Linked DNA regions of Homo sapiens. The protein of the gene in region 1 purifies or fractionates together with the protein of each later gene. This does not show direct contact. Each region holds a gene or a part of one and is shown in the gene's direction. Other genes may lie near its edges. The genes, in order: RNF38, MYO1C, BLMH, ARPC5L, RAI14, SERPINB12 and TGFBRAP1.

Region 1 (4,368 bases):
GGAAGGGAAGGAAAGAAAAGTTTATTTAAAATATGTAACTCTTATTTTTCCTACCCTTTATTTCTGCATTCTCTGTGTAATGGATAGAGGATTTCTTTCGTTGCATCTGTTTTCTTTTCCCTTTTCCTTCTTTTTCATCACCTTATGGGATTGTGGACTGGGGAAAGGAAGTAGGGGAGCCTTAGGCTGTTTTCACACACCCTATTTCTGCTGTGCTCTCAGAAAGAGATGGGTCCTGTTTGTTTGCCTAACTCAAGAGTGGGAACCATAATTTCTGTTTAGAAATGATTGTCCGGTGCTGGGCAGTAATGAACATCCTCACCCACATAGTACCAGTCCTTGAATGGTTTCTCCTAATACTGCCTATTAGCTTTTCAAAATTATTTTTAAATTATTTTTTAGCTCACGCCTGTAATCCCAGCACTTTGGGAGGCCGAGGTTGGTGGATCACCTGAGGTCAGGAGTTTGAAACCAGCCTGAATAATATGATGAAATCCTGTCTCTACTAAAAATAAAAAAATTAGTCGGGTGTGGTGACCAGCACCTGTAATCCGCTACTCTGGAGGCTGAAGCAGGAGAATTGCTTGAACCCAGGAGGTGAAGACTGCAGTGAGTCAGGATTGTGCGAGTCAGGATTGCGCCACTGCACTCCACCCTGGGCAACAAGAGCAAAGCTCTGTCTCAAAAAAAAAAAAACAAAACATATATATATATATATACACACACACATATATATACGTATATATACATGTGTATATACGTATATACGTATATACACACACACACACATATATAAAGCAAATTGTGACCGTTGTGTAGTGAGAGAATGATTTTTTTTTTATTCCTTTCAGTCTTTTTCATGTGTCATTTGTGTATGAGAACTGTTGAAGCTTAGAGATGAATGACTTAGAAATTTTGTCTTGGATCTCAAAGGGTAGTAACATCTCAGAGGGTCAGTTCTACCCAGTGTTTGGACCTCAGTTTTCCAGAACCAGGCTCTCGATTTTTTTTTTTAAAGAAGCTTTATTAAGTTATGTTTTATATACCATAAAATTCACTCCATTCAATTAGATTTTTTTGGTTACATTTTGAACATTTCTGTCATCCCCCAAAGATCCCTGTGCCCATCCAGGCCTGCCTTTTGCATAACTCTAAGCGTGCACAGTCCCATTCCTGTTTGCAGTGTTCTCTCCTGGACCAGCTTTGAAGAATGCCATCCGGGACTTTGAGTACCCCTGCTCCACACTGTCAAAATCCTTTCAGAGAACTCTGCTCCCAGAAAACAAAAGCCAAGGAAACAGATTTGTTTTAGGCCCAGTGATAGAACTCTTCTCAAAGGAAAGGTGACATTTAGGTCTAGTTTATTCTCAGAACAGGGAAAAAAAAAAATCCTAGCAAGGAGCACAGCATGCATCAGTAGCTCAATGATTTATTCTGCCTCAGTAGGATGGGGTGGACTTACTGGGCAACCACTGACTTCATTTAATGGTAACCTGCAGGTGAGTGCATCAGATCTCTTCCTTGATCAAAGCTTTTAGCTTGTCTCATTGCCAACCAGATTTCTAAGAAACTTGTTACACAAATCAGAAAGGCAGGCTGTTACATCATTTGCTTACAGTTTGGAAGATTATTCTTTTAATAAATAGTTGAATGCCTGCTATGTGCCATGTACTCTTCTAGGTGTTAGTGACATTGTGCTGAACAGGACATGGAGCTTATACATGTTCTCCTGAGTGTATGCTCAAGTCACCTCATTGATTTGGCTGCTCTATTTAATCTTTATAGGGAGTTCTCTGTTTTTCTTCCTAATATTCCAAGATAACTTTTTTCTTGAATTTATGAAGTCCTGTTCATATATAACCCTACCTTATGATCATAGCATTTAAATAATTTTCTCCTCCCCCAAGTAGTAGTGTTTCTGGTTGCTACTTTTTAATGGCTGCATAGTTCAAGCAAGTGTACCGTAATTTTACTTAGCAAGTATTTGTTAAACATTTAGGTTGCTTCTAGTTACCTTTTAAATTGTCGCTATTATTGTGCTGTGGTGACCATATTCATGCATATGGCTTTTCTCGTATTTTGGTATATAACCTGATAATTTGTCAGTTTAAATATTAGAGATTCAAACATGTTTTTTAAATTATTAATCTACCTAATTACTTCCAAGAGATTAACAGTTGCTATCATGGAAGTGGTGAGAATATTTGGAGTTTTGGATTTGACTTTATTTTACAGATAACCAGACTTGTAGCTAGAGGTGACACTAAGCACCTGACTCCTCATCTAATGTTTTGTTTTCGTCTTTTATATTAGGCTGTGATTTTAGTGCTTTTGACCGACCAGTTGGTATGCTGAAGAATGCTTTGTGGGCCTTCGTGAACACCTTATTTTGTAGAAGTACGTTATGTCATACTGGCTTAGAAGTCATGTACCTGTATCCTCTCTCTCACTTTTACTGGAGAAAAAAAAAAAAGGAAATGAACGAAGAAGGATGCTGTTGTCAGAAGCAATTTTAAATGTTTTGGGACAGTGTCTTGTCCTAAGTGCTAATTTTAGTGCGATAATTACTAATAATACCTGCAAGTCTCCAAGAAAAGTTAAATTGTTGGTTATGTTACCAAAACACAGAATGGCCAGATTAAACAAAGGATGTCCTAAAATAGTAGTGTTGATGCTTAAAAGGTTAAACTGTTTTCTGTAAACTTTAGTTTTGTGAAATAGGGTTTTCTTAGTTATGCTTAATGAATTAGTCATATGATTATATGGAAATAGACATTAAACATGATAAGTTTTGGGAGTTGCAGACTTAATGTGGTCTCAGGATGTTTCCTTGGCAGGACTTTTTAAATACAGGTTGCATTCTGGGAGAAAGCCAGAGTTAGCAAATCTGTAATGCTGAAAAGTTGCCAGCCTAGAGAAAAATTATATCAGTTTTCAGGAAACAAGTTTATTTTTAAGTACTAAAAATGGTTTTAAATAGGCCTGGTGGAATAGTTGATACTTACTAATCAAACTAGATTATAAAAAAGAATGTTACTTTAAAGTAGAAGGTGGTTTTGTGGGTTGAGTATGAACCTTAGAATTCGATAGACTTGAGTTCAGATTATGGTTTTGATATTTCTGAGGTATGTGACTTTAAGCAAGTCTGTTAAACCTGATGTTCAGTGTATAAAGATGGGAGAGCCCAGTTCAGTTTCTGGCATGAAGCTAGCTGTTACCAGATTGAGGCTTTAAAACCTGCTATACTGCTTAAATAAAAATGTGTTAATTTTTATATCTTTTGTAATCAAATCAGTGTAGCCAAAATTCTGGAGAAGAAACTTTTTCACTGTGGTACAATAATTTTTATTCAAGTTATATACATACACATTGTGTTTTCTGTAACAAATTACTACAAATTTATTTGTTTAAAACACAAATATTTCCTTACAATTTCCATGAATCAGGAGTCCTGGTATGGGGTTAGCTGCTGGGCCCCCAGGGTCTTACCTTGCAGGAGCTGTGATTTCTTTCTTTTCTTTTTTTTTTTGAGACAGTCTTGCTCTGTCGCCAGGCTGGAGTGCAGTGGCACGATCTTGGCTCACTGCAACCTCCACCTCCCGGATTCAAGTGATTCTCCTGCCTCAGCCTCCCAAGTAGCTGGGACTACAGGTGTGCGCCACCACGCCCAGCTAATTTTTGTATTTTTAGTAGAGATGGGGTTTCATCATGTTGGCCAGGTTGGTCTCTATCTCTTGACCTTGTGATCTGCCCGCCTCGGCCTCCCAAAGTGCTGGGATTACAGGCGTGAGCCACTGTACCCGGCCCAGAGCTGTGATTTCATCCGTGTCTCCTTCCAAGTTCACTGGTAGAATGTGGTTCTTGTGATTATAGGACTGAGGTCCCCCATTTCTTGCTGGTCGTCAACTGGTGACTGCTTTCAGCTCCTAGAAGCTGCCCTCAAGCCCCTGCCACATGGTACCTTTCGCATGCCTTCTCACAACATCTTAGTCTGAAGAATTGGCAAGAGAATCTCTTGGGAAGGACTCAGTTCTGCTTTCTCTGATTAAGTCATGCCCAGGCTCACCCAGGATAATCTGTCTTTAGCTTGAATTCACCTTACTTGGAATCTTCATTACATCTGAACGTCTTTCCTCCTTTGTCATATGATTTAACCTAATAATGGGAATGAAATACATCACATTCACAGCCCTGCCTGCGCACATGGGGAAGGGGGTTGTACAGGAGATGGACACCAGAGGTAATCTTGGGCAACCTATGTATGGGACTGCCTGCCCCACACACACACACACACACACACACACACACACACACACACACACAATGTGTGTGTGTGATTTTATTTTACCTAGTAGTAAAAATTGTACC
Region 2 (4,368 bases), on another chromosome or scaffold:
AGACGGGGTTTCACCGTGTTAGCCAGGATGGTCTCAATCTCCTGACCTTGTGATCCACCTGCCTAGGCCTACCAAAGTGCTGGGATTACAGGCCTGAGCCACCGCGCCCGGCCTGGAGGTGAGGTTTTAGCAGGTCGTGACTACTTGGTGTGAGGAGTGGAGGCAGGAGAGCAGGCCTGTTAATGCCAGGCTGTGATGACCAGCTCAAACAGTGCCACCCTTCTCTCTACAAGGACATTAAACAGGGAGTACAGGTTAGGGGTCAAAGGCCCTCTTTTTTTTTTTTTTTTTTTGAGACAGTGTCTCTGTCACTCAGTCTGGAGTGCAGTGGCATGATCTCAGCTCTCTGCAACCTCTTCCTCCAGGATTCAAGCAGTTCTCCTGTCTCAGCCTCCCAAGTAGCTGGGATTACAAGCGTGTGCCACCACACCCTGCTAATTTTTTGTATTTTTAGTTGAAACAGGGTTTCACCATGTGGGCCAGGCTGGTCTGGAACTCCTGACCTCAAGTGATCTTGCCTGCCTTGGCCTCCCAAAGTGCTGGGATTACAGGCATGAGCCACCGCTCCTGGGCCGTTTACTTTTTTTTTTCCCCCATACAAATTTATGTTAACATGTTATGGGTTTATTGCTTTGTTTCTTTGTTTGTTTGACACTGGGTCTTCTGGGGTACCCAGGCTGGAGTGCAGTAGCACCATCACAGCTCACTGCAGCCTCAACCTCTTGGGCTCAAGCAATCCTCCCACCTTAGCCTTCCAAGTAGCTGGGACCACAGGCACACACCATGCCTGGCTAACTTTTTAAAAAAATTTTAGTGGAGGCAGGGGTCTCACCACTATGTGGCCCAGGCTGGTCTTGAACTCCTGGCCTCAAGCGATCCTCCCACCTCGGCCTCTCAAAGTTCTGGGGTTACAGGTGTGAGCCACTCACTGCACCTTGCCTCTGTTCACGTTTGCTGGACCCCCCAGGCAGAGGTGTCTGGCAGCCAAAGATCCATGGTTGTGTAGCTAGAATGGACAGTCCTTGACCAAGGCCCTGTGAGCAATCAGGGTAGAGACCCTAAGTCGCCACTATCTCCTCCCCATTTCCCTTCACAACAATTCCCTGAGGTCTGGAACGGTCCTTGGTGGGCAGCCAGGCCCAGATCTAAGATTTGTTTAATAAACAGAAGTTGAAGCCCTGCTCTGTGCCACCCGTGAGACAAGCTGTGGCTGCCTTTCTGCTGCCTTGGGCTCAGTGGACATCGGTTTATAGCAGCAGTCCCGGGTGCCTCAGATGACACCTCCTCCCAGCCCCCAACACCCCTACCCCATGGCAAGATCTGTGTGCCCTTAGGCTGGGGGAACATTTGAGCTTTCCGCTGTCCGCAGAAGTCAGGCTTGTAGGCACCTGGCCTATAGGAGCTGAAGGGCACTAGATAGCCCAGGTCTGCTGGGCCACCCCATCCCCTGTGGTTCCAGTAAATGCCTCCCCAGGTGGGAGAAGACCCAGAGGCAGCCTTGGGGAAGAAGTCTCCTATGTCACTCAGGGGCCATGGCCTGCAGGGAACCTCTAGGCCCAGAGCCAAAGGCCCTGGCCCACTCCTAAAGCCCACATGTGACATAATAGAATCACACGACACCGACAGGGGCCTGAACGGTGTCACTGAAGGTCACAGCCCTGGTAGCCCTGATAACCGCACAAAGAGGCTCAGGGCAGCCCTGCAGTAAGGTGTTCCAGTGCCCGGGTTCCAGTCCCACTCCTCCTGAGACCTTGCACAAGTCACCTGCCCAGCCTCAAGTTCTTCTGCATTGGAGTGATGATACGGACCTCACGGCTTGGCTGGCGTCACTGAAAGGAGTAACCCAAGAAAGCGCGGAGAACGCAGGAGGCGCCTGGCGCTGCAGCCTCAGCCGCGGCGTCTTTCCCACCCAGGTTCCCCGCTTCCCTCCCCGCCCGGGGCTCGCGCTTCCGTCCAGTGAGGAGGGGCAGGCCGGGGGTTGCCAGTGCTGGAGCCGCCCTGGGGCCCGCGAGCGGCGGAGACGCCCCCTCCTTCCGCCGCCGGGCGGTGGCTGCGGGGGCGCCAGCGGGCATCCCGGGAATGCGGCGGCGCGGCCCGGGAACTGGAAGAAGCGGGCCCGACCCCTCCGCGCGCGGATTCCCCTCATTCCAACCGCGTGACGTGGAGGGGCGGGGCGGACACTGCGGCCGCGAAGCTCCGCCCCGTCCTCTGGCCGCGCCCCCGCTGGCTCCTGCCACGCCCCCGGCCCGAGTCCCCCACGCCTCGCGGGGCAGGGAGAGAGCTGAGCTTCCGGGAGGGGCTCTCTTGACCCTCTACCCCGTCTTCTAGGACGTTCCCCACCCCTGGGCGGGCTGGAGGCTGGGTCGCCTCCTTGCTCCCTCTAGATTTTCCTTGTTCTGTTTTGTTTGGAGACGGAGCTTCGCTCTGTCGCCCAGGCTGGAGTGCAGTGGCACAATCTCGGCTCACTGCAACCTCCGTCTCCCGGGTTCAAGCGATTCTCGTGCCTCAGCCTCCCGAGCAGCTGGGATTACACAGGCGCCCACCACCACGCTCAGCTAATTTTTGTATTTTCTAGCAGAGAGGGGGTTTCGCCATGCTGGTCAGGCTGGTCTCGAACTCCTGAACTCTGATGATCCGCCCGCCTCGGCCTCCGAAAGCGCTGGGATTACAGGCGTGAGCCACCGCGCCCGGCCCTCCCTCTAGATTTTAAACCTGGGGGCACCGCAGCGGGCGTCTCCTCCCGCCCTCCCCCGCCTCTGTCCGAGACGCCGCCATTCCCCCTCCCCCGCTCCCACTCCCCCACCAGCTGGTGCCCCCGCTCGGGGGTCCCCAGGGCCGCCGCTCCGGCCGGGTTGTTGCAGTGACGAGCCTTCCCCGCAAGGATCCGGCCCGCACCTGCCGCAGCCTCGCCCTCTCCCCAGGGAGCGGGGTCCGCGAGCTGGGGGTGGGGCGCTGGGGCTTTGGGTTCCCGCTCTGCCTAACCCCACCAGGGCGAGTCTGTGTACGCCGTTGTGTTGGTGGAGGAGGCAGGTGCCTGCAGACGCGCCTGAGGCTCTCCCCACCGGATCGGAAGCGTGGCCCACGGCCTGGCTCTCAGTAGGCCTCTGCCCGCAAGCAAGTGAGAAATGAGCGTCCGGCCGAGGGAAGGCGGCGGGTGGGGGCAGCGAGGTCTATAGGGGGTCTGGAGGTGCCTTCACGCTCTATCTCAGGCCACCCAACGGCCCTTCTAGGCCTGTGTTAGCCTCATGTTAGGGATGAAGAACAGAAGCCGAAACGTTAAGTGACTTGCTCAGAGTCCCACCGCGAGGAAGAACCAGCCCAGCCTTTTGCAGACTCTAGACGTCCCCGCCCCTGCCCGCGGTGGGATCTGAGCCAAGGTTCGCCCCAGGCGAGGGAGGGTGGTGCCCGCAGAGCCAAGCGAGGGAGGTTCTGCCGAGGCCGCTTCGGAGGTGGGGGGCGTCCCGGAGATCCGGAGGGACTAGGGAGGCCCCCTTCAAAGCAGGGAGGGAGATGGGCCGGGCGCGATGGCTCACGCCTGGAATCCCAGCACTTTGGGAGGCCGAGGCGGGTGGATCACCTGAGGTCAGGAGTTCCAGACCAGCTTGGCCAACATGGTAAAACCCCGTCTCTACTAAAAATACAAAAATTAGCCGAGTGTGGTGGCGCACGCCTGTAATCCCAGCTACTCGGGAGGCTGAGACAGGAAAATCGCTAGAACCCGGGAGGCAGAGGTTGCAGTGAGCCGAGATCGCGCCACTGAACTCCAACCTGGGAGCCAGCGCAAGACCCCGTCTCAAAAAAAAAACAGAAAAAAAAAGGAGGGAGGGAGGAGGTCCGGGCCCAGAGGCGAGTGGGGTGTCCCGGGTGGGGAGAGGCTGTGGGCCCCAAATGCCGTGGGCGGGGGGGACGCGAATTTCCCAGAGGGGGAACTGAGCCCTCCAGAGGGGCCGGGTACTCCGCGCGCTCGGCCAGGGCACCCGTTGGCCGTCCCTGTCCCTGGGGCGCGAGCTCCGTGCTGACGAGGAAAACCAAGATCTTCCTGGGTTCGAGGCTCGGACCAGGCCCCGGCGCGTGTGGGTGGACGGCGTCCCGCACGGAGAACGCTCCGCCCGCCGGGCGCGCCGGCCGTATTTGGACATTGGTTCTATTTTTAACTTTCCCGGGACTCGAGTTCGGGGGTTGGGGGAGGAAAATCCCGCTTCCTCTGGGACCCGCAGGCCTCGGTGCCCGCCCAGCGCCCAGGCCCGCCGCGGAGTGTAGTCCCAGGCCCGGAAGTGAGTTCCGGGTCGGTGTAGACGCGGCGGCCGCGCGGGTTCCGGGCTCCACCCTGGTGCCAACGGCGTCCCTCCTGGAAAACCTGACTCAGGC
Region 3 (4,368 bases), on another chromosome or scaffold:
GCCAGTTTTCCCCATGATCGTACTCCCTTTATTTTGTACTATCATTCTTTTTACAGCTATGACCATGAGTTAGTGTTTGGTGTCTCCTTGAAGAACATGAATAAAGCGGAGAGGCTGACTTTTGGTGAGTCACTTATGACCCACGCCATGACCTTCACTGCTGTCTCAGAGAAGGTATGACCCTCAGCATGCCTGCTGGAGTGTTTGCACAGATGGATCTACATTCTCCTGTAGACTGTTTACCCAACAAAGCTTCATTCATAGTGTATATGATTTCTGTTAAAAGTTAGTTTCCAAGTAAGACATCGTACCTGCGTCACTTGGGGCTTGGCTGCGTGCTTAGAGGTAATATAAAAATAGGAACTTTCTATGAGGAGAATTTGGGTCAGCAGGGAGCGACCAAGTAACTGTTTCTGTAACTTTGGAAGGTCATGGTTTAAAGAGAAGTCAGCAAGGGAACTTGAGAGAAGATAACTTCTACTTTATAAGGAATCAAAATGTGCCCTGAAAGTGTTCATATCTTGATGACCTATGTTCAGATTTCCCTTCATTTGTCATTCAGATTCTTTTGCAGTAAAATGTCAATAACAGTAATTTGTGGACTCCATACCCATTTCTAGTTATATGCAGAGCTTCAGGAAATTGGATGTAAAGTATTTTGAATTTCCTGTGAAATAGTGTGTATAGTAATACCACTTTTTATAGGTTATAGAGTTGGAAACAACTGAAATTTTATCTTTCACAAATAAACTCCTCACTTCCAGTCAGTAAAAATAGATATTTTCACCTCTGTGCTCAGGATCATCAGGAAGGAAGAACTTGAACTACTTTAATTCTTTACCACCACAAGCAAAAATATTCTTTCTAGCCTAATTCCTGGAAAGTCACAGAATAACTACCTTATATAAATTGTTCTAGAAAATCATTTTTTTTTTTTTTTTTTGAGATGGAGTCTCACTCTGTCATCCAGGCAGGAGTGCTGTAGTGTGATCTCAGCTCACTGCAACCTCCACCTCTGGGGCTCAAAAGATTCTCCTGCCTCAGCCTTGCGAGTAGCTGGGATTACAAGTGCCCGCCAACACACCCAGCTGATTTTTTTGTATTTTTAGTAGAAGTGGGGTTTTGCCATGTTGGCCAGGCTGGTCTCGAACTCCTGACCTCAGGTGATCTGCCCGCCTCAGCTTCCCAAAGTGCTGGGATTACAGGCATGAGCCACCGCACCCAGCTAGAAAATGGTTTGATAGAGAATTGTTTTTGCTATCCTATCCACTAGATTTATGATCTTTAAAATGTTTAGAAATATCTTAGCATATCATTATGCCACATTTTCCTAACTAGCCTATCTAAAAGTCCTGATTTGCTTTTTATACTCTATGCAGAATTGTGAGTGGGATGGGGTTTTCTTTCTGTACCTTTTTCTCACCTCTTCCAACTACTTCACTTGAAGGGTGCCCTTTCAACCCCACAGCATCTAAGATCCCTGTGCTCTCTCTGTATTCAAAACTTGGTCTTAAAGGTTTAATTACATTCCTGCAAATTATAAGGCTAGTGCTTTAAGTAGTAGAACTCTGAGGTATTCTCAGTTTTATATGAGATCAAACACAGTATGGTGTAAAGGTGCCCTGAACTTAAGAGGCAGTCTTAATGCTGATACTCCTGATCCTCATGTAGTTTTCATAAATAAATGTAAAGGTTGAGGTCTTGTAAACCAGCGAGCTGTTTTCCTCATTATTCCATTCGTCAGTAATCTCAGCTCTGTAGTTAGCGAGACTCCCACACCAAGAAACAGGTTTTTAGGGTTACCCAGGAGAATGTGTGGAGTATAATTTGCATTACTTATGTAGATCAAGAAAAGTCATTTTAAAACAGCAAAAGGTGATTTAAGTGTTATCACCCCAATTTAACAAAATTCTCACATTTGAATTATAAACAAAACATAAAGTTAGGTTATAAAAGGAATTTTAGACCGGGTGCAGTGACTCACACCTGAAATCCCAGCACTTTGGGAGGCTGAGGCGGGAGGATCACCTGAGGTCAGGAGTTCAGGACTAGCCTGACCGACATGGCGAGACCCTGTCTCCACTAAAAATACAAAAATTAGCTGGGCATGGTGGCGTGCACCTGTAATTCCAGCAGCTACTCTGGAGGCTGAGGCAGGAGAATCCTTTGAACCCGGGAAGCGGAGGTTGCAGTGAGACAAGATTGCACCACTGCACTCCAGCCTGGGTGACAGAGCAAGACTCTGTCTCAAAAAAAAAAAAAAACAATAAATAAATAAATAAAATACATGAAAAGGTTTTTCAAATAAGGGTGCTTTATAACTAAACTAAAGTTCTTTAAATAAATTTTTAAACTATATAGAGTTCTGTTTTGTGTTTTTTTGTTGTTGTTTTTTTGTTTTTTTTGAGACTGAGTCTTGCTCTGTCGCCCAGGCTGGAGTGCAGTGGCACAATCTCAGCTCACTGCAACCTCCACCTCCTGGGTTCAAGCTATTCTCCTGCCTCAGCCTCCTGAGTGCAGGCGTGCACCATCGGCCTGGCTAATTTTTTTTTTTTTTTTTTTGTATTTTTAGTAGAGATAGGGTTTCGCCATGTTGGCCAGGCTGGTCTTGAACTCCTGACCTCAAGCAATCCACCTGCTTCGGCCTCCCAAAGTGCTGGGATTACAGGCATGAGCCACTGTGCCCAGCCGAGAATTTGTTTTGTTTGTTTGTTTGTTTTTAAAAAAACAAACAAACAAAAACTTGTAATTTCCAAGAAAAATTCAGCTTTTTATCATTTCTATCTCTGTTATAGAATACTCCTATTTTTCAGGAATAAAAATAATGAATACCACTGTCATTTTCTTGGGAACTTCCATTCTTTGATTAGCATGGGTTGTTTCCTTAGGAAAATGGAGCTACCTTACATGCTAATGGTATAAAGCAGAATTTATATTATTATACCTGGAATTTTATATTGAACATTTTCTCTTCATTCCACTAGAGTTTTTGATCCCAAAAACGAGTTTGAACTACACTTGAGTAATAGTACAGAGGTAAATGCATACTAGTGGTTATATTTCCACAATTTTCTTTCTTTTGTTGCTGATATCATGGAATCCCTATAAGGGAGTTCCAGGTATTAATCATTTTGTAATTGTAGATGACCCAGAGAACAATTTGATCTAGGTCACTCCAGGAATTCATTGGCCAAGGGGAAAACATAGGAAACATTTTCAGACTTAGAGTAACAAGTAACTATATCACTTTAGGTGACATCGATTCTAACAGTGATATTTAAAAGGAAAGTAAAGTTGGACTACAGTGGGAGGAATAGAAAACCAAAACAGACATATAATATGCCAGCTGCAGAATGTATAGTATATAACGATATGGTTTTAAAGGATTTGGGGGCAAAGAGTAAGGATTAGTACAGGTAAGGGTGTGTGAAACTTGTGAGTTTGTTGGCGCTATTTGTGAGACAGAAAATTACTGAGATCCAAGAAAACTGCCAAGAGTGGAGTGTTTGGGTTAGCAGAGCCAAAGAGAACCAAATCCCATATAGATGAGACTCATCATATAGTTATTTGCAAGTGGGAGTTGACAGATGAAATCATTAGGCGATAATACAGGGGTGAGTGCTCTTCTCATGCTACAAAGATTTAAGTTGCCTTGACATCAGTAAATGTCCTGGGTAAACATGAAAGAAAAAAGTCTTTTCCCAAATGGAGCCTTCCTCTTGTCCCTCTCTGTGTCACTATAGTAAAGGCTGTAAATGAAGGTTGTTGTGATGAGTATCACTGTCCCTTTAAGAAGACCAAAATTGAGCTTATTTTAATAATGAAGATGGAAGAAGGAGAACAGTAGAAGTGCCTGGCTTTTGTTTATGAAAATGGTCTTTTTACTTTTGCTTTGCCATTCAGTCTCTTCTTTGAAATTCAATATTTGTGTAACTGGATCAGTAAAAGAATGCATTTGGGAGAGTATCATTATTTGGTTTCCCCAAGTAGAAAATCAGGCAGTATGATGAGTTTGTTTTGTTTTGTTTAAAAAAGACTCTGACCAGGTTTTAGAATTATTCCTAAAATAAAGTAGGATGCATTTGCTTTAATCAATATTGATTGATTAAAAGCAAGAATCCCCAGCTTCAAATGTTTACTGCTTTTAGTAGGTTAATATAGTTTTTCTTAGTCAAGTAGCATTTTTACATGCCTATTTTATGTATACAATAGAATAGAAAGGATGAAATAGTATTTATTGCTTTGTTAGTTTATTATGTTTTTACCCCAAGAGATTCAAATTCCATTTCTACTGGAGTATCCCTTTAGTGATCGTAGGAAATATATAGCCCTGACCAAGTACTGTTTAGAGCAGGCTGCCTGTATAGA
Region 4 (3,920 bases), about 88 Mb from region 1:
AGGCCTATGACACACAGCTAAGATCCCACGTCAGAGAATCCTGGGTCCACAGTGTCAGTTGTGCCGTGATTGAGGAAGATCTAGAGGAGATCAAGGGCTGGGCAGGATTCCCTCAGCACCACAGCCTGTTCTCTGAAAAGGCCTAAAGCCAGCCAAGTATGACAGCCGGCTTCACAAATGATAGGTGACTTCAGGGAGGTCCTCCCTGCGCCCCACATCTCCCAACTGCTGAAGGCCCTCACCCATCAATGGGCCGAGTGATTGCTGGACGCGTGGTGCTGAGTTAACGCCACAGCAGTAGCTTTTTGCCCCCGTGGACTAGTTTTATACCTGCCCTTCCCCATCCATCATTTGAATGATGTCATTTGTTAGTTGTGCCAGGTTTACATGAAGAGCAAGTGAGCCTATGTTTTCTGTTCAGCCTATGGGATCCTGCTTATTGCTTTGGGGACACCACATTAGAAAAGAGTTACAAGGGCTGGGCGCGGTGGCTCACACCTGTAATCCCAGCACTTTGGGGAGGCCGAGGCGGACAGATCACGAGGTCAGGAGATCGAGACCATCCTGGCTAACACAGTGAAACCCCGCCTCTACTAAAAATACAAAAAAAATTAGCTGGGCGTGCTGGCGGGCGCCTGTCGTCCCAGCTACTCAGGAGGCTGAGGCAGGAGAATGGCATGAACCTGGGAGGCGGAGCTTGCAGTGAGGCAATATTGCGCCACTGCACTCCAGCCTGGGCGACAGAGCGAGACTCCGTCTCAAAAAAAAAAAGGAGTTACAAAGTAGAGGTTATCAGTGGCTGATATCAGGCTGGCCTTGTTTGGATGGGGAAAAGGAACTCCAGAACTGAAAGACAGAGGGACTGGACTGCCTCTTGAGTGTGGAAGGTGGATCAGAGCCAAGCAGGGAGCTGGGGAACCAGCGCTGGGAGTGGCTTGCCTGGTGGCGCAGACCCAGCTCACTCAAGATGGATCTCATACTGGGGAAGCCAGGAGATTCAGCTCTGCTCCGAAGGCCCTTCCTGTCTGCACGTGGGTATCACTGCATGAAGAGGAGTAGAGACCCGATTGGGCAGAAGCCATTCCTTGTTCTATTTTTGAAGCTTTTTGGCTGAAGCCAGTGTTTCATACGAGGAAATGAAAGTTGGCTGATGTAATTCAGTTTAAAATAGGTGTCACCTTTGGGGACCTAACCCAGATTGTAATTTTCTTTTGCATGCTGGGTATTCAGAACTCAGCAAAGAATGTGTTGTCAGGATTGCAACTGAGGTTGGGGGGTAAGGGTGGAGACTGGCTCATTGTTGGCAAAAGCTTCTGTTAGATTGATAAACTCTTTCCAGGTAACAGTTGGGACCTCATTGATCCCGATAGATCTTAGAAGTTCTAGCACATCTTAATTTCCTTAATAGTTTAATTGATGAAGAGCATTGATGAAGAGTTAGGAGGTCTCCCTTTGTACCTACATTTTCCGCTTTTTTAGAATGAGAAGATGAGAACGACCTCCAGTTCACATGTACGGGTGCTGTGAGGATCCAGTAGGGGAGATACAGTGCTCAGCACCAAGCAGGTGCAAGTGAGCACAATCCAATTTTACATCAAGTTACCCCTCCAGGACAGTTGCTTTGACGTGGAAGGTAGAGAGGGAGTTGAAAGGAGGGTTTGCATGGTTGGCAGAGGTGCCCTGCAGCCTCCCTGTGCAGGCTGTAAACCGTCTCTGCCCCCCTGGAAGCCGTGGAAGGTGGGTGGTATGGATGAGATCCCATCTGACTCTGTTCCTGAGCTGTTTCTGAAGTGAGCTTGTTCATGACGGCATGGATGTGCTTGAGCCTAGCTATCCTTAACTGGTGGTGATGCACAGGGGACATGCTTCGGGCATTCCATGCAGCCTTGCGGAACTCTCCCGTCAACACCAAGAATCAAGCTGTGAAGGTAAAGGGGTGGCGCTGCGGCTCTGCTGGGTGCTGTTGGGACCAGGGCTGTGGGTGTCTGCCCAGTGCGAGTGTGAGCTTTCATCCACATCAGAGGGAGTGAGTTGGCACTGGGCGGGGCTTCCAGGGAAGCCTCCTGGCGCTCCCTAGGTGGTGAGGCTTCTCTGACATCAACGCTGTCAGCGTTTATATACGAGAACCTCCCCACAGAAGCCTTCACTCCTGCTCACGGCCTCGTAGGCTGAGAAGTCAGCCTGGCCCTGGCTGATGAGGAAAATGGATGAATTCGCTCACCTGTGGTGCTTATGCTCCCACAGACTGTTAAATAGGCTTTGTCTGCCTGAGGATTTTAAGTACCCGTACGCTTTCCTACCTTCTAAAAACTAAATTGTGCTTACTGCATCACCAAGTCTAAAATTTGGTTCAGAGAAAGGGGTCTCCCTGCAGCTGGGATTCTGGCAGCTGTGACAGCATCTTGATGTCACCAGTGGCTGCACCTTCACAGAGTTCTGGGGAATGGCCCCACCCTTCTGGGTGTGAACACAAGAGGGACGCTGCAGCCGAGTCAACCTGGTTTTATTTTTATTTTTTAATAGTCCACCACCATTGTGGAGTATAATAAGGCCTTATTGGTGTCATCTAAAATAGTGATGGGCTGGGTGCCATGGTTTATGCCTGTAATCCCAGCACTTTGGGAGGCAGGAGGATCGCTTGAGCTCAGGAGTTTGAGACCAGCCTGGGCAACATAGCGAGACTTTGTCTGTATTAAAAAATAAAAAAAATAATTAGCTGGGCATGGTGGCATGTGCCTGTAGCCCTAACTGAGGTGGGAGGATTGCTTGAGCCTGGGAGAGGCTGCAGTGAGCTGAGATTGCACCACTGCACTCTAGCTCAGGCAACAGAGCGAGACCCTGCCCCTCCCTCCCTCTCTCCCTCTTTTCTCTTCTCTCTCTCTCTCTCTCTCAGAGTTGATACTTGTCCTAGTAAACTACTTACTCCCCCAAAATAAGTAGGGTAACTTGTTGGCATAAATAAAAGATACTTTGAAATTTAAATCCACAAAAGACGTTCTAACCCACTTATTTTAACCATCCTGGACGAATTAGAAACTGGGCAGTGTTTCTGGTGATCTGTGTCCTTGCTTTGGTGTGGGGCATGGCATGGCGGTGCCTTCGCAGCTCTGGGACTCACTTGCTCTTTTTCGTCTGCAGGAGCGAGCCCAGGGCGTGGTGCTGAAAGTGCTCACAAACTTCAAGAGCAGTGAGATTGAGCAGGCTGTGCAGTCACTGGACAGAAACGGCGTTGACTTGTTAATGAAGTACATTTATAAAGGCTTTGAGAAGCCCACAGAAAATAGCAGCGCAGTGTTACTCCAGTGGCACGAAAAGGTATGTGAACGCTGCCACGCGCCCCAGTGAGCCACCTGGCTTGCCTTGGGGTTCGATCAGCAGGCCAGATTTTCCAGAACAAACGTAGGACGGTCTGATAGGCGTGTGGGGTCAGAGGACGAGCCCCAACCTGGGACATGTCATCACTTCCCTCTCCCAAGGAAGCTCCTGGTAGGGACCTGCTGTCTGTGGTAATTGCAGTTACTTTTTTGCTTTTTAGCTGCCGATTTATGTCAGGCAAGACAGGGTGCCCTTGGTACAGGACATGTGGGCAGATAACATGGCATAGTAAGGTGGTCAGGGAGTCTAGGTAGGAAGGGGGCCTGCTGGTTGGTTGGGGCTTCATGATACTTGCAGTGGTGGAGGCAGCTGTTGGGGGTTCTTAGAAATAGAGTCCTCCAGCCAGCTCTAAGGGCTTCCTGCCCTGGCCTCAGCCTTAGCAGGCCAGAGTGAGCAGTGGGCAGAAACCTTGACCTCACTTAATATGGCCTTCGTCCAGGTGAAGCAGAAAGAGCTGTGTCTGCCCTTCGCTTGGGTCCGTGTGAGAGCAAGGCCTTTGGCAAGCCTGTGTCGTGCCTGTACCACTGGGGCTGCCTCCCACACCC
Region 5 (4,368 bases), on another chromosome or scaffold:
AAGTGAAAGAAATAAAGAGAAAGTGAGAGAGTTAGAGGAAAAACTGGTAGAGAGGGAGAAAGGTACAGTGATTAAGCCACCTGTGGAAGAGTACGAGGAAATGAAAAGTTCATATTGCTCTGTTATTGAGAATATGAATAAGGAGAAAGCATTTTTGTTTGAGAAATACCAAGAAGCCCAAGAAGAAATCATGAAATTAAAAGACACACTAAAAAGTCAGATGACACAGGAAGCCAGTGATGAAGCTGAGGACATGAAAGAAGCCATGAATAGGATGATAGATGAACTCAATAAACAGGTGAGCGAGCTGTCACAGCTGTACAAAGAAGCCCAGGCTGAGCTGGAGGATTACAGGAAGAGGAAATCTCTAGAGGATGTCACAGCTGAATATATCCATAAAGCAGAGCATGAGAAACTGATGCAATTGACAAACGTGTCCAGGGCTAAAGCAGAAGATGCACTGTCTGAAATGAAGTCTCAGTATTCAAAAGTGTTGAATGAGTTGACCCAGCTCAAACAACTGGTGGATGCACAAAAAGAGAACTCTGTCTCTATCACAGAACATTTGCAAGTGATAACCACGCTGCGGACTGCAGCAAAAGAGATGGAAGAAAAAATAAGCAATCTTAAGGAACACCTTGCAAGCAAGGAAGTGGAAGTAGCAAAGCTGGAGAAACAACTCTTAGAAGAGAAAGCTGCTATGACTGATGCAATGGTACCTCGGTCTTCCTATGAAAAACTCCAGTCATCCTTAGAGAGTGAAGTGAGTGTGTTGGCATCGAAATTAAAGGAATCTGTGAAAGAGAAAGAGAAGGTCCATTCAGAGGTTGTCCAGATTAGAAGTGAGGTCTCACAGGTGAAAAGAGAAAAGGAAAATATTCAGACTCTCTTGAAATCCAAAGAGCAAGAAGTAAATGAACTTCTGCAAAAATTCCAGCAAGCTCAGGAAGAACTTGCAGAAATGAAAAGATACGCTGAGAGCTCTTCAAAACTGGAGGAAGATAAAGATAAAAAGGTTGGTGAAACTGTATTGCTGTTGGGTTTCTAGCAATAAGTCTTAGTCTCTTTGGCTTTTACTATATTAAATATTTCTAGTGTTGGCACTAAACTGGAGTGAATGCTCAGAGGCTCTGCACATGAACTTTATCTGTCACCAAAGCCACATTAAGAATAGTTTGTTGGGTCGGCCGGACGTGGTGGCTCACGCTTATAATCCCAGCACTTTGGGAGGCCGAGGTGGGTGGATCACTTGAGGTCAGGAGTTCAAGACCAGCCTGGCCAACATGGTGAAACCACGTCTCTACTAAAAATACAAAAATTAGCTGGGCGTGGTGGCACACGCCTGTAATCCCAGCTACAAGGGAGGCTGAGGCAGGAGAATGGCTTGAACCCAGGAGGTGGAGGTTGCAGTGAGCCAAGATCAGGCCACTGCACTCCAGCCTGGGCAACAGAGTGAACAGACTTCATCTCAAAAAAAAAAAAAAAAAAAAAAGAATAGTTTATTGGGTATTTGTATTTTAAAAACACATCTGCTGGGCATAGTGGCTCACTCCTCTAATTCCAGCAGTTTGGGAGGCCATGATGGGAGGATGGCTTGAGACCAGCCTCAGCAATATAGTGAGACCCCATCTGTACAAAAAATTTAAAAATTAGCCAGGCATGGTGGTATGAGCATGTAGTCCCAGCCACTTGAGAGGCTAAGGCAGGAAAATCACTAGAGCCCTACAAGTCAAGACTGTCATGAGCCATATCAACACCACTGCATTCTAGCCTGGGCAACAGAGTGAGACCCTGCCTCAAAAAATAATCAATAAGCAAACATCAATCTTCGGCCACTTCTCCTTATACTAAAGCATTTTCATATATCTGTCCTTTAAAAATCATTTTACAGAAGCTTTGCCAGTATTGGGGATCAGAAGTGAACCTGCAAACTGGAAAGTATTTGTGATCCACCTCAAACTTCAGGTTCTTTTTTTGGATTCAGAACAGATTCCTCCATAATATGAAACTAAAATACTCCTAGACTTAATCCTGTTTCCCTAAGGTCCATGAGCTTCCCCTCAAGTCACTGTAAAAGCTACCCTCGCCGGTCCCTCCTTTGACAGGTATATAGGAGAGGAAGGGGGAGGAATGTGGGGAGCCGGCAATTTGAGATGGCGCTGGACACAAGAGATGGTGCTGGCCGTGCTGCTGGAGGAAGGAGGGAAGCAAAGGGGAAGTTCAGGGGGATGGTTCCACGCCTCAATCGGCTCTGCATCTCTAGTCCCCTGTCTCGGAGGTTCCGAATAGCATTCATGAGAGACTACTTGTCTTTATTCTTTTGTAATGAGTGTTTCAAAAGAGCTTTATCATCCAGGGGAACAGGGATTAGGGAGTGGTGGGGTACGGTGAGGAGTTAGTTGTGTTTACTTTAAAGAAAGACGTCCAGAGATATCAGGCTTCCTAGACCTTATTCCTGATCACCCATGTCAGCAGTATTGGACAAAATATAGCTGTCTCCAAATAAAAGCGGAAATCCTAATTCTGATTTTTTTTTTCAATCATACCCATTTTAAGAGTAAAAGTAGGAAACCAACATCACAGCTTTTGTTACCGCCATCACCAAAACATAATATGTAATTCAAGGGCCTTTATCTGAACCTAATGGATGTAGCGGGCTTTGTTAGTTTGCCTGATTTTGTCATCCATTTCATTTTATGAGTTTTTTAATTTAAATGTATTAAAAAGGAATTGTTCCAAAGTCTTAAGTCCCAGAGGCCAAAAGAGATGACTATGTTTGAGGCTTACAAATATATGAAATTTTGCTTTGTAGACATGTTACTGTCTGCTAATACCATTTTCCTTTGCCCCTAGATAAATGAGATGTCGAAGGAAGTCACCAAATTGAAGGAGGCCTTGAACAGCCTCTCCCAGCTCTCCTACTCAACAAGCTCATCCAAAAGGCAGAGTCAGCAGCTGGAGGCGCTGCAGCAGCAAGTCAAACAGCTCCAGAACCAGCTGGCGGTGAGTGGGCTTGTTTCTGCTGCCTGGTTTGGGGTGGAGGGCCTGGCAGATTTCCTACCATCTCAGCTGCTAGGGCAAGTGGGCGTGAACAAAAAGATTCCCAGCCCAAAGGAATGTACTTCAATGAGCAGTTGACTGATTTCTTCAGTGAGGGCAAAAGAGGGAGCCACTGGTGGAATTCCTGGTCGTTATCAGCAATGCAACGGGTCAGATATTCACTGGGAAGGAAAGAACCGACAGGACAGTAGGAGGAGGCTATGTGCTCACTCATACCCTAACTTTTTACCCCTTCTCCTTTTTCTGCAACAGTCTTTCCCCATCTCTGGCAGTGGCAAGAGCTTTTTCTTGTTAGGGGCCAGGATCTCTAGTAGTTGCATCTCTATATATCTGAAGCTGCTTCTTGGCCCCTCTCCTTATTTCACCCAGGAAAGCCCTTGCTTATCTAAATTTGTTTCCTGGGTCCATTGTAACAAATCACCACAAATTTGGTTTAAAACAACATGAGTGTATTATTTTACAGTTGCATTGAACTGAATTCCAAAATCACTTTCACTGGACTAACTTCAAGTTGTTGGCAGGGCTGGTTCCTCCTCGAGACCATAGGAGAAAATCAATTTCCTTGCCTTTTCCAGTACCAGAGGCTGCCTGCATTCTGTGGCTCATGGCCCCTTACTCCATCTTCGAGGCACATCACTCCAGCATCTGCTCAGTCTTCCCATCTCCTCCTTCAGCCTTTGATTTTCTTGCCTCCCTCTTATAAGGGCTCTTGTGATTACATCTAAAGCCCACCTAGATAATCCACGATAATCTCCCTCTCCATCTCAAACCCTTAATTTCATCTGCAAGATGCCTTTTGCCATATAAAGTTTAACATTCACAGGTTCTGGGGATTAGGATGTGGACATCTTTCAAGAGCCATTATTTAGCTTACCACAATATCTGTTAAGGTTTGAGTTGGCATGGGTACATTCCGTTTTCTACCTAAAGTCCAGGGTTAGTCTGTCCTGGACTGTCTCTAGCTTCCATATACAAACAGAACATGGATTTGATGATTTCTTCGGAATAGACCTAACTGTAGTGAATTCAGGTTTCTGCAGTCCTTACTCTGGCTGGCCACAAAGTTCAATGCTAGCTTTGGAGGAAACAGCTCTAGAAATGGTGGATACTTAGGAGAAGCTGCTCTTTACTGTGTTCTGCAGGTCATTCTTCTCCTGATAAAATGGTATTACAGACTTGTAGATAAAGTGCTATTGGTTTATACAGTAATTCTTATAATTACGCAACATGTGTTTGTTGAGCTCTTACATCAGTATTATACATGGGGCTGATGATATAAAATGAGTAAGACTCAGTCCCTGCCCTCAA
Region 6 (4,368 bases), on another chromosome or scaffold:
GAGTTTGTGTTTTAGTCTTTATTGTTGTTTTAATAGATTTTTTCCTCTTTTTATGTGTTATAAGACTCTTAAATTTGGAGGATACAAGATAAACATCAGGAAAACTGTCTGCTTTAGATAAAAGATGCATTTTTTCATTAGGTTGAAAGTGTCTATGCTGATATTTTTCCTATAAACATGTTTTCTTTTCTCAATATTGGGTTTTAAAATTAAATGACAAAGAGCCCCTTTGTAATATTTCAAAAATACTGCCTTTATCAGTAGGGGAATATTAATCATATCATTTTGCATCATAAACTGGCAAAGACTTTGATTGCTGAATCATTCTGGCCTCCTTAAATTTTTAATTCTAGGCAGAAAAAGGCTAATTGCTGAAAGATTTATTGATTGGCTCATAATTCTTGCTGAGTTGTAACATACCTAGGAGGAATCATCTAGCTCTATACTTGATGAAGTAAACATTATTTTTACGGCCTGTTGACATAGAACTATTTTTTTTTTTTTTTAGCTTGCCTTGAATAGCACTGTCAGGCTAGTTGACCTCCAAATTTCTTTCAAACCCTAGTGTAATTCTCTGGCACTTGAAGTCACGGGTACTAGAGAGGCTCGCTTTCTTCAGCCATTCAGTGATATATTACATGTGTAAAGTACCAAATGCAGCTTGACATTTAGTAAGTGCTCAAGAAATTCTCATCCCCTTGTTAGTGATTTATCAAGCTACCTTAATGTTTAGCTACATTTAGTGTCAGATTTCATCTTCGCTCATTGAGCAATCGCACCACACCAAATTTTTAGGCTTGTAGGGCACAGTCATCTGTAGTTAGATCTTTGTTGAATTATTTAAGAGGATAAACAGATGCAAATCTAGATTAAAGACATTCAAACAAGTTTATACTCTTCTCAGGTACCCAGAAGCCCAGTGAAATTTGAATATTATCCCCCAACAGTAACAGATGTGACACCTACTTCCAGGAAGCCAGGCAAGAACTCATCCTGTTCTGAATATGAATGGTATACCCTTTTGGAAAGGCTATGATGGGCAACATGAAGTAGTAATCAATGACATAAAATATTAAATAATTCACGTGTTAAAATTTTCCAAACTCTTGCAAATCATAACCAATGACTAGACTGGTTTTTAGAATTTTGTGGAAGAATTTAGAAAAAAAAATAATTATTTTCAAATGATCAAGGAGTAAAGAAAACTAACAGCACGTTTCTTTTCTATGCTTACTATTGATAATTCAGAAAAACTCTGGATGCTTAGTCATTAATTTCCACTGGTCAATATCTTATAAAACTTGTTTTATTTATACACTAGCTACATAAGTAGTTTATATTTTCCATAAAGGCCATCTCTCCATTTTAGAAAGTTTTCCTTTGAATTTCTCTACACCTAATGTATTTGTAGGGTCATGGTTCAGATAATATTGTTGTCTGACAACAAGTTAGAAAAGGAAGATAAAGGGCTCAGTAGGAGAACCAGGTCAGAGAGGGGTCCTCGTTTGTCCTTAAGACATGTCAGTTCCTGGAGTTTGACTCTTCCTAGCTTTCTCCTAGTTGCTCCACACTTTTTGCCCTATCCACTGACCCTCATGTTTACAGTCAGTAACATAACACGATTGTAGAGTGCTAGAACCAAAAGTAACATCAGAACATGCTTTGGCTAAGTTTAAAAAGTTTTGTGTTTTCAGTTGTAAAATATGTGTGTCAATAATCAAATAATAATTCTCATCCCTACCACACACCTACTGCAGGAAAGCAAAAACTTTGAAGTAGCTTAGAGCACATTTTGCAAATCCTATGTAATAACTTAGAAAGATTTTAGAATAATGCAAAAATTCAAATATAAGAAATCATCTAAGACAATGTGTATATGAAGTAAAATACATTTCTGCTTCATGGTCTTCTAGTATAGAAATTTGAATTGAAAAGTGTGAGCCAAGTATTGCTTTGAGGGCTCTATAAAATTGGAAAGAGCAAAGAAAATATAAGCATATTAAGTTAAATATTCAATGTAGTTAAAAGCATAGCATTTGTTTTAAAAATATATGCCACTCTTTTCTTTTCCCTTTAATCTATCAATGATGATTTTACTCTGGATTCCAAAATGGCACTGGAAAAGTTCCACAGAGGGAGGGGCAAAGTTGATATATTTCCATTCCCGACAGGGTGTGGAGGGAAGCTTACCTGACCAGCTGTTAGCAGCAACTCTGAGGGCAAGAAGGTAAATGCTCGAATTGCCTGATATAATTTTTAACAATGAACACTGAATTGGAAAACCATTTTAAAGGATAGAAACCCAGAGGAGATGTGATTGAAATAGAAGGATATACTTGTTTTTATTAAGTCAAATACTTAAAAAAAGTGAGTTAGTTTTATGATGTTTTGGATTTTCTGCAGATGTGGCAGTCATCACTGGGAGATATTAACAATGCTTGTCACCTCGCTCAGCCCCAACCACCTGGTCAGATGCCTGATGTATATGATTGATTTTTTTAAAATGTAGATGTTTGAATAACTTTTTAAACTTTCACATACTTGACATATTGTATTTTATCTTTTAATGAATTATTTCTGAAACATAAGATGGTATAATATTTAGAATATCTATATTTTAAACAATGTGAGTTAGATTTTTTTTTTTTGCACCATAAGTTGGAAAACACTTTCGATGGTATTGTTCACAAGTATTTCTTTGTTTTTAGATATTGGTTATTATTTAGTTTGCTGTAACCTGGTTTGAATATTTGTTCCAGCAGAATAGCATCTATTTGTGTAAAGTTTGAATTTCATTCTTGAGTTGTTAGTAGCTTTGTGGGAATTATAGAAATTATAAGACATGAAATATTTTTGGAGTATAAATATTTTTCTTCCTACTATATATAGGAAAAAACAGTTTTACTCAGAATATTTTGGGTTGTTAGAATGTCTATCTTGTCTAAACCTTTACATTTTTACTATAAGGGAAAATTGTAATAAATGAACTTTTTCTTATACAGTAAATGAATTTTTTTTATATTGCAGTAAGTGAACTTTTTCTTATATAGTAAAAAATTAATAAAAAGCTGATTCTCTTATGCAGAATCTCTGTTAATTACAGCTTCCTGCAGGATATATAAAGTTAATATGAAATGCTAAATAGTCTTCTAACATTTCAAACATTAGGATTATCTACAATGAAAAATGGGCAGATGACAGCAAATCAATCCATAAATATTATGAAGGGTTCTCATGTGCTACCATTGTGTTCTTCACGGATGGGTACAAGGATGAATTAAAAACACTGAACCTACCTTCAAGACAATTATGATTTGGAAGTAAAGACATCAGTATAAAAAATAATTACCTTACAGTGTGATAGAGGAGTTAAGGGAAACAAATGTTGTATGGTTATTGTATACAGTGGTGACTAATTAACTCTTTAGAGGGAGAGGTTGGAGGAAAGTGGAAGAAGGTTTTACGTGTGTAACAAAGCCAGAAGGAAAGAAAACAAGCAAAATAGATCATTTGTTGATACCTCAAACACCATAAAAATGGAAAAAAATACCTTTAAAAAATTAAAAATGTTACACATTTCAGATAGTCAGTATTTAAAAATGTATCTTCAAAGCTAACAATGTAAGTTAAAATCTTACAGGAAAGATTTTCTTTCTTGTAAAAAATTGAAAGTAGATGAGGTTTTAAAATTAAGTTGAAAATACATTACCCTCAAGGTTTTGAAGTGATAGAAGAGAGTGCCAGAAAATATTGACAATTTTCAGTAAATAAGAGTAAAAACAATTCTATAATAACAATAAAGAAAATAAAGGAAGGTAAAACAGGGGAAATTTTTTTAAAGAACAAGTTTGAAAAACATAAAATGTTTATATAATATGAAGAGTTCATAATGATCCATAAATAAATGATCAAGACCTCAATAGATAATTGAAAGATGAACAAGAGACAGTTAATATGTGAGAATTTATAAAGAGAAAAGAACACATGGAGAAACATTCAAATGTTAGCAAGTATCAATGCCATGTAAATTTAAAAATAATACAATTTTCTTTTTATTTTTTAAGTTATTAAGAATGGCAATAATATCTGAAAAAGGTGATTATGATATAGCAGTTTCATCTGTAACTTTTGGCTGACAGTATGAAAGTTAAAAATCTTTATAATATTTGACCTAGAAATCCCATGTTGAAGAAGATACTCTGAAGAAATAATATGAAGGGAGATAAAAGCTATATTTATGACAATGTTTATCGTAGAATTATTCATATTAATAAAAACTGGGAAGCTAATTTAAGTATCTAGCAATATGATGTTAGTTTAAACATTTAGATAAGTCAGTATAATGAGATATTATAAGGCCATTAAAAG
Region 7 (4,368 bases), on another chromosome or scaffold:
TTTTAGTACCATAAGTAAATATACAGCAATGAGAATCCTTTGGTTGTTTGTTTGTTGTTGTTGAACTACACACACACACACACACACACACACACACACACACACACACACATATATTTTTTGAGACAGGGTCTCACTCCGTCACCCGGGCTGGAGTGCAGTGGCACAATCAGGGCTCACTGCAGTCTTAACTTTATGGGCTCAAGTGATCCTTCTACCTCAGCACCCCAAGTATCTGGGACTACAGATGTGTGCCCCACACCTGGCTAATTTTTAAAAATATTTTAATAAAGACAAGATCTCACTATGTTGTTGCCCAGGCTGGTCTCAAACTCCTGGGCTCAAGCCATCCACCCACCTTGGCCTTCCAAAGTGTTGGGATTACAGGCATGAGCCTGAACTCGAGTTGAATAGAATATGGGGAGCTTGGACTGGGGGTGTCACTGTGTGAAGGTCGCCTCCAGGAGCTGATGGGGAGAGGTTGTACTTACCGTGTTGTTCTGTTTCAGGTATTTTGCACTTGGACTGCTCTATCATTATAATAACCAAGATGCTGCTGCAGTTCAGGTGAGTCTAGAAGGGTTTCCACATGATTTAAAAATCAGCACCATGTAAGTAATACTTAGTGTTACTTAAAAAAAATTCACAAGTTGATAGAGACCACTTTTGCCTGATCTACACCCTTTTATACAGAATAAAAATGATTCTGTTTTAGAAAGTGAATTCCTGGAGAAATGTTGGCCAAGAGTTTTCTTCTCATTGTCTTTCCATCTCCTTAAAGAACATTATCAAGACTGAGTTTTTGAAAACTTAAGAAATGAAAATATGATCTCACAGAGTTCCAAGTCATAATATATCACTACCCTTATCAGAAAATTTAGGCAGTGAATGATAGTCGGATTTACCATTTCCACTGTTAGTGATGATCACTGTTGCCAATGAGCTGGGTACATTATTATCCTTGTGTCACCTGTGACAAAACCAAAGCTGATGCATGCCAGTTGCTTGCCCGAGGCCATGTGTCCGTGGTAGATCTGGGATCTGAACCGCGCTCCATTGGCCTGGCAGGGGTCCTGCACCCTAATCAAAATGGCATCGATTTATTAGCATTGTCACATTTTGTATCTTACATCTTGCTACTGATCTTGAGAAAAGCCTCATCTCACACTCTCAGGGGGAGACTTTCTCCCCTTCGTTATTAGTTATGCATTTGTACTGCACCGTGTTGTTTCCTGATGTGCCTTTTTGCTTTATTTTGTGAGGGGCCAAGAGCATCAGCCATGTTCCCCAAGCTAAAGTTAACCTCATGACTCTGGCAAGGCTGAACATGTATTTAGTGTTTGATTGCTTTGTGAGACTATTGTGGTAACCTGATTGCAGAGCAGAACAACAACAACAACAAAAAATGGAGTTGGGTGAATTAACACGTACCCAATGGCCAAGAGTAGATTTGGGTGTCAGTGATAAAATTTTCATTTTCAAAAACCTGGTGTTCTCAGTTACAGCTTTATATAAGTATAGTAATAACTTTAGCAGAGCTGTAGAGAGATAGATTTGCAAACTTGAAGTGATATGGGATAAATCTCCATACGTGGTAGAATTTTATATAAAATGGCATATTTCAAGGTATGTGTGATTATTTGGTTTCAGCAATTCTGTGTTGAAGAAACTAGTATCATAAAAAATGTTCGTATGCTGACATCAGAATTCCAGAATTCATATGCCACCCCTGTTTCTGGGCTCCTTCCTGGTGCTGTGGCTTGGAGGGGTGGTGCTGTGTATGGGTGGGTGAGGCACGCCATGCAGGTATTGCAGAAGGAACCCACGCAACCGTCATCCTTTCTACCCCCAAGTGATGCTGCCTCATTCTGGGGTCCTGAAAGTAGGCTTCACTTAACATGGTAGGGAAGTTTCTGGCTGAAAAAGCAAAAGGCTTTTATCACTGGAGTCTATCCTGAGCCCCCTGTGCAAAAGGCAGTGTGAACTCAGGGGACAGAATCACTGAAGCTTTTGTAAAAGCACAACATCTGCCTATCACAGTCCAAAGGGGACTTCAAAATCAAGAATGTCTGTGACGGAGAAGATGGAAACAGAGCCTGGCTGATGGTTGTAGGTGAATCTTCTCTGTGTCGAGATGTTATCAGTGACCGTTTTCTTTATTTCATGAAGAAACATTTTTAATATATTCACCTCCCTGCATATATTCTGTTTACTGTGTTATTGTTAAAAAAAGAAAGAAAGATAAAAGAACCTAGAGCTTAATTTTTTTTTTTATTTCTTGGACTATGTCTTTTTACATTTCTTTATTTCTCCAAAAAAACTAAAATTTAAGCATTTACAGTTTTTCCAACTACTTTAAAAGGTATTAAAAAGCCAAATAAGTAAACATATGCCATTTCTCAACTAATTCTGAGATATGTGCCTTTATGATTGTTTTTTCTTTTCTTTTTCTTTTTTTCTTTTTGATTCCTTTCCAGTTGTGGGTGAACATTGTGAATGGCGATGTCCAGGACTCCACACGCTCAGACCTGTATGAATACATCGTGGATTTTCTTACCTACTGCTTAGACGAGGAACTAGTGTGGGCCTATGCTGATTGGGTCCTGCAGAAAAGTGAAGAGGTTTGTGCTTCGTAAAAATGCATTCTCTTTGGTTGGGGGAGGTGGTAAAAACAGACCCCAAAAGCTTTGCTTTTAGGAGGGGAAAAGAAAGCTACATTTCAACCTCCTCCTCTGTTTTTTGTTGTTGTTATTATTCCCCTTTTAATACCTTCCCTTGAGCTCTCTGGATTCTAGCTCTAGGGCAGTTCTGCATCTTGCTGCTGAGACATTCCATTGAGAATCCCCTTGCTGGGGCAAGTCACTTGTATAGAAAAGCAAGACATAGCCAGCTTGCATTTTTAGCATCTTCTTAAGAACTTGTGTCTGTGAACCCCGCTCCTCGACCCCTCAGAAGTCTGACACTGCTGTTTTCTGGAGCAGGATTAGGTGGTTGCCCTGAAGGACTTGATCTTTGGGAGGAGGAAGCACCCAGACCTGGGCCACACTGGGCCCTCATCCCTGCTCCCACCACTGCCAACATGGAGCTTGTGGGCCTGGAGGAGGGAGGGGAGCCATGAGCAAGACTCGGCCTGTCCTGGAGGCTGAGAAATGCTGGCAGTGAAAAAGCACCTGTTGGCTAGAGGGAAGGTAGCAGGCTCAGGACAGTATCCTTAGTAAAGCCCCACAGGTGACCACAGGTGACTGGGAAGAAGACAGCAAGCATTTCAGTTCTCATCGTGAAAAACGTATACGCTTCCATGGCTCCCCTTGGAGAGACAAAATGAGCTTTCTGATGCAGGACGTTGGTCCTGAATGGAGAGTTTCTGAGTGCTGCATCTGCCTTTCTAAGACCTGAGTTGGAATATATTCTCATATCCTCCGTGGTGCTGGCTTCCCTGGAAAATCAGAGCCAGGCACTTGCACTTTGCATACTTGTTTCTCCATCTTTACTTTGCCTCTGTGCACACGCCTGCAGAGCACATCCTGACCTGCTCACACACACCTACAACATGGATCTCAGTGCCGTTGCAAGGTTTAGGCTTCTCCCAATGCTTATGGATGATAACAGCAGATACTGCACGGTGGACAATCCCCTGACAAAGGTCATCGCTTAAACATCATAGCAGCCCCTCAGTGGGCATTAGCTACAGATGAGGAAACTGAGGCTATAGTTGGTAGAGCTGGGACACAAATCCAGGCTTATAGAATCCAAAATTCATACCATAATACATGATACGTGAATGTATTGGCCTTGGAGGGGGGAGGTGCGTGTGTGCGTGCACATGATAGAACCTCCCACATGTAAGTGCTCAGGGGAGGTGCAGTGGAGAGCTGCTTTCCTGCCTGCCTCACTGTCCTTTCCTTGAACCAGAGGATTGGACCAGTGCCTCCACTTGATGGACACAGGAAGGCAGCCCGGAAACTTACTCAGGGACTGGAAGCTCAGATCTCAGATTAACCATCTATCATAAATAACCCAGAGTAGATAATCCATGTTCAGAGAAGTGAGTTTACTGTACAGAAATTTCAGCACTTTTGATATCTTTTCACATACTGTTCTGCAACTGGCTATCCCTGTTCTTGGATGATCTTAATGTTATTATTATAGGTTGTCAAAATCTGTCACCAGTAAATGCTTTGTTCTTCAGTTTCCAATTTGCATGGGGTGTGTGAGGAGGACTTCAGGGTATAGGCTGGCTTTTCTATCTTGATTTTTTGCCCTCTGGCCTTTGACAGTGCTTCATGCTGGGCTGTTTTTCTCCATAATTATATTTTTTAAGCCACTGTATTGAGATATGATTGACATACAAAAAGCTGTGCATACATA

What was found.
Region 2: the proteins of RNF38 (region 1) and MYO1C purify together in Homo sapiens (affinity purification with mass spectrometry, with the first as the bait; one study listed by BioGRID). This does not show direct contact.
Region 3: the proteins of RNF38 (region 1) and BLMH purify together in Homo sapiens (affinity purification with mass spectrometry, with the first as the bait; one study listed by BioGRID). This does not show direct contact.
Region 4: the proteins of RNF38 (region 1) and ARPC5L purify together in Homo sapiens (affinity purification with mass spectrometry, with the first as the bait; one study listed by BioGRID). This does not show direct contact.
Region 5: the proteins of RNF38 (region 1) and RAI14 purify together in Homo sapiens (affinity purification with mass spectrometry, with the first as the bait; one study listed by BioGRID). This does not show direct contact.
Region 6: the proteins of RNF38 (region 1) and SERPINB12 purify together in Homo sapiens (affinity purification with mass spectrometry, with the first as the bait; one study listed by BioGRID). This does not show direct contact.
Region 7: the proteins of RNF38 (region 1) and TGFBRAP1 purify together in Homo sapiens (affinity purification with mass spectrometry, with the first as the bait; one large-scale study listed by BioGRID). This does not show direct contact.

Annotation. Positions count from the first base shown.
Region 1 is NC_000009.12:36,393,433-36,397,800, reverse strand, and holds part of RNF38 (E3 ubiquitin-protein ligase RNF38), read left to right. Parts: intron 1-2,313; exon of another isoform or gene 2,314-2,397; intron 2,398-4,186; exon of another isoform or gene 4,187-4,240; intron 4,241-4,368. UniProt on the Homo sapiens protein: Acts as an E3 ubiquitin-protein ligase able to ubiquitinate p53/TP53 which promotes its relocalization to discrete foci associated with PML nuclear bodies. Exhibits preference for UBE2D2 as a E2 enzyme.
Region 2 is NC_000017.11:1,485,961-1,490,328, reverse strand, and holds part of MYO1C (unconventional myosin-Ic), read left to right. Parts: intron 1-2,656; exon of another isoform or gene 2,657-2,673; intron 2,674-3,099; exon of another isoform or gene 3,100-3,118; intron 3,119-3,197; exon of another isoform or gene 3,198-3,377; intron 3,378-4,197; exon of another isoform or gene 4,198-4,274; intron 4,275-4,368.
Region 3 is NC_000017.11:30,267,077-30,271,444, reverse strand, and holds part of BLMH (bleomycin hydrolase), read left to right. Parts: intron 1-56; coding exon 57-174; intron 175-4,368. UniProt on the Homo sapiens protein: The normal physiological role of BLM hydrolase is unknown, but it catalyzes the inactivation of the antitumor drug BLM (a glycopeptide) by hydrolyzing the carboxamide bond of its B-aminoalaninamide moiety thus protecting normal and malignant cells from BLM toxicity.
Region 4 is NC_000009.12:124,871,837-124,875,756, forward strand, and holds part of ARPC5L (actin-related protein 2/3 complex subunit 5-like protein), read left to right. Parts: exon of another isoform or gene 1-1,830; coding exon of another isoform or gene 1,831-1,850; exon of another isoform or gene 1,851-1,855; coding exon 1,856-1,928; intron 1,929-3,138; coding exon 3,139-3,315; intron 3,316-3,920. UniProt on the Homo sapiens protein: May function as component of the Arp2/3 complex which is involved in regulation of actin polymerization and together with an activating nucleation-promoting factor (NPF) mediates the formation of branched actin networks.
Region 5 is NC_000005.10:34,823,477-34,827,844, forward strand, and holds part of RAI14 (ankycorbin), read left to right. Parts: coding exon 1-1,015; intron 1,016-2,853; coding exon 2,854-3,003; intron 3,004-4,368. UniProt on the Homo sapiens protein: Plays a role in actin regulation at the ectoplasmic specialization, a type of cell junction specific to testis. Important for establishment of sperm polarity and normal spermatid adhesion.
Region 6 is NC_000018.10:63,544,723-63,549,090, forward strand, and holds part of SERPINB12 (serpin B12), read left to right. Parts: intron 1-904; exon of another isoform or gene 905-1,008; coding exon of another isoform or gene 1,009-1,011; intron 1,012-2,178; exon of another isoform or gene 2,179-2,227; intron 2,228-4,368. UniProt on the Homo sapiens protein: Inhibits trypsin and plasmin, but not thrombin, coagulation factor Xa, or urokinase-type plasminogen activator. May play a role in cell differentiation.
Region 7 is NC_000002.12:105,273,813-105,278,180, reverse strand, and holds part of TGFBRAP1 (transforming growth factor-beta receptor-associated protein 1), read left to right. Parts: intron 1-509; coding exon 510-567; intron 568-2,477; coding exon 2,478-2,621; intron 2,622-4,368. UniProt on the Homo sapiens protein: Plays a role in the TGF-beta/activin signaling pathway. It associates with inactive heteromeric TGF-beta and activin receptor complexes, mainly through the type II receptor, and is released upon activation of signaling.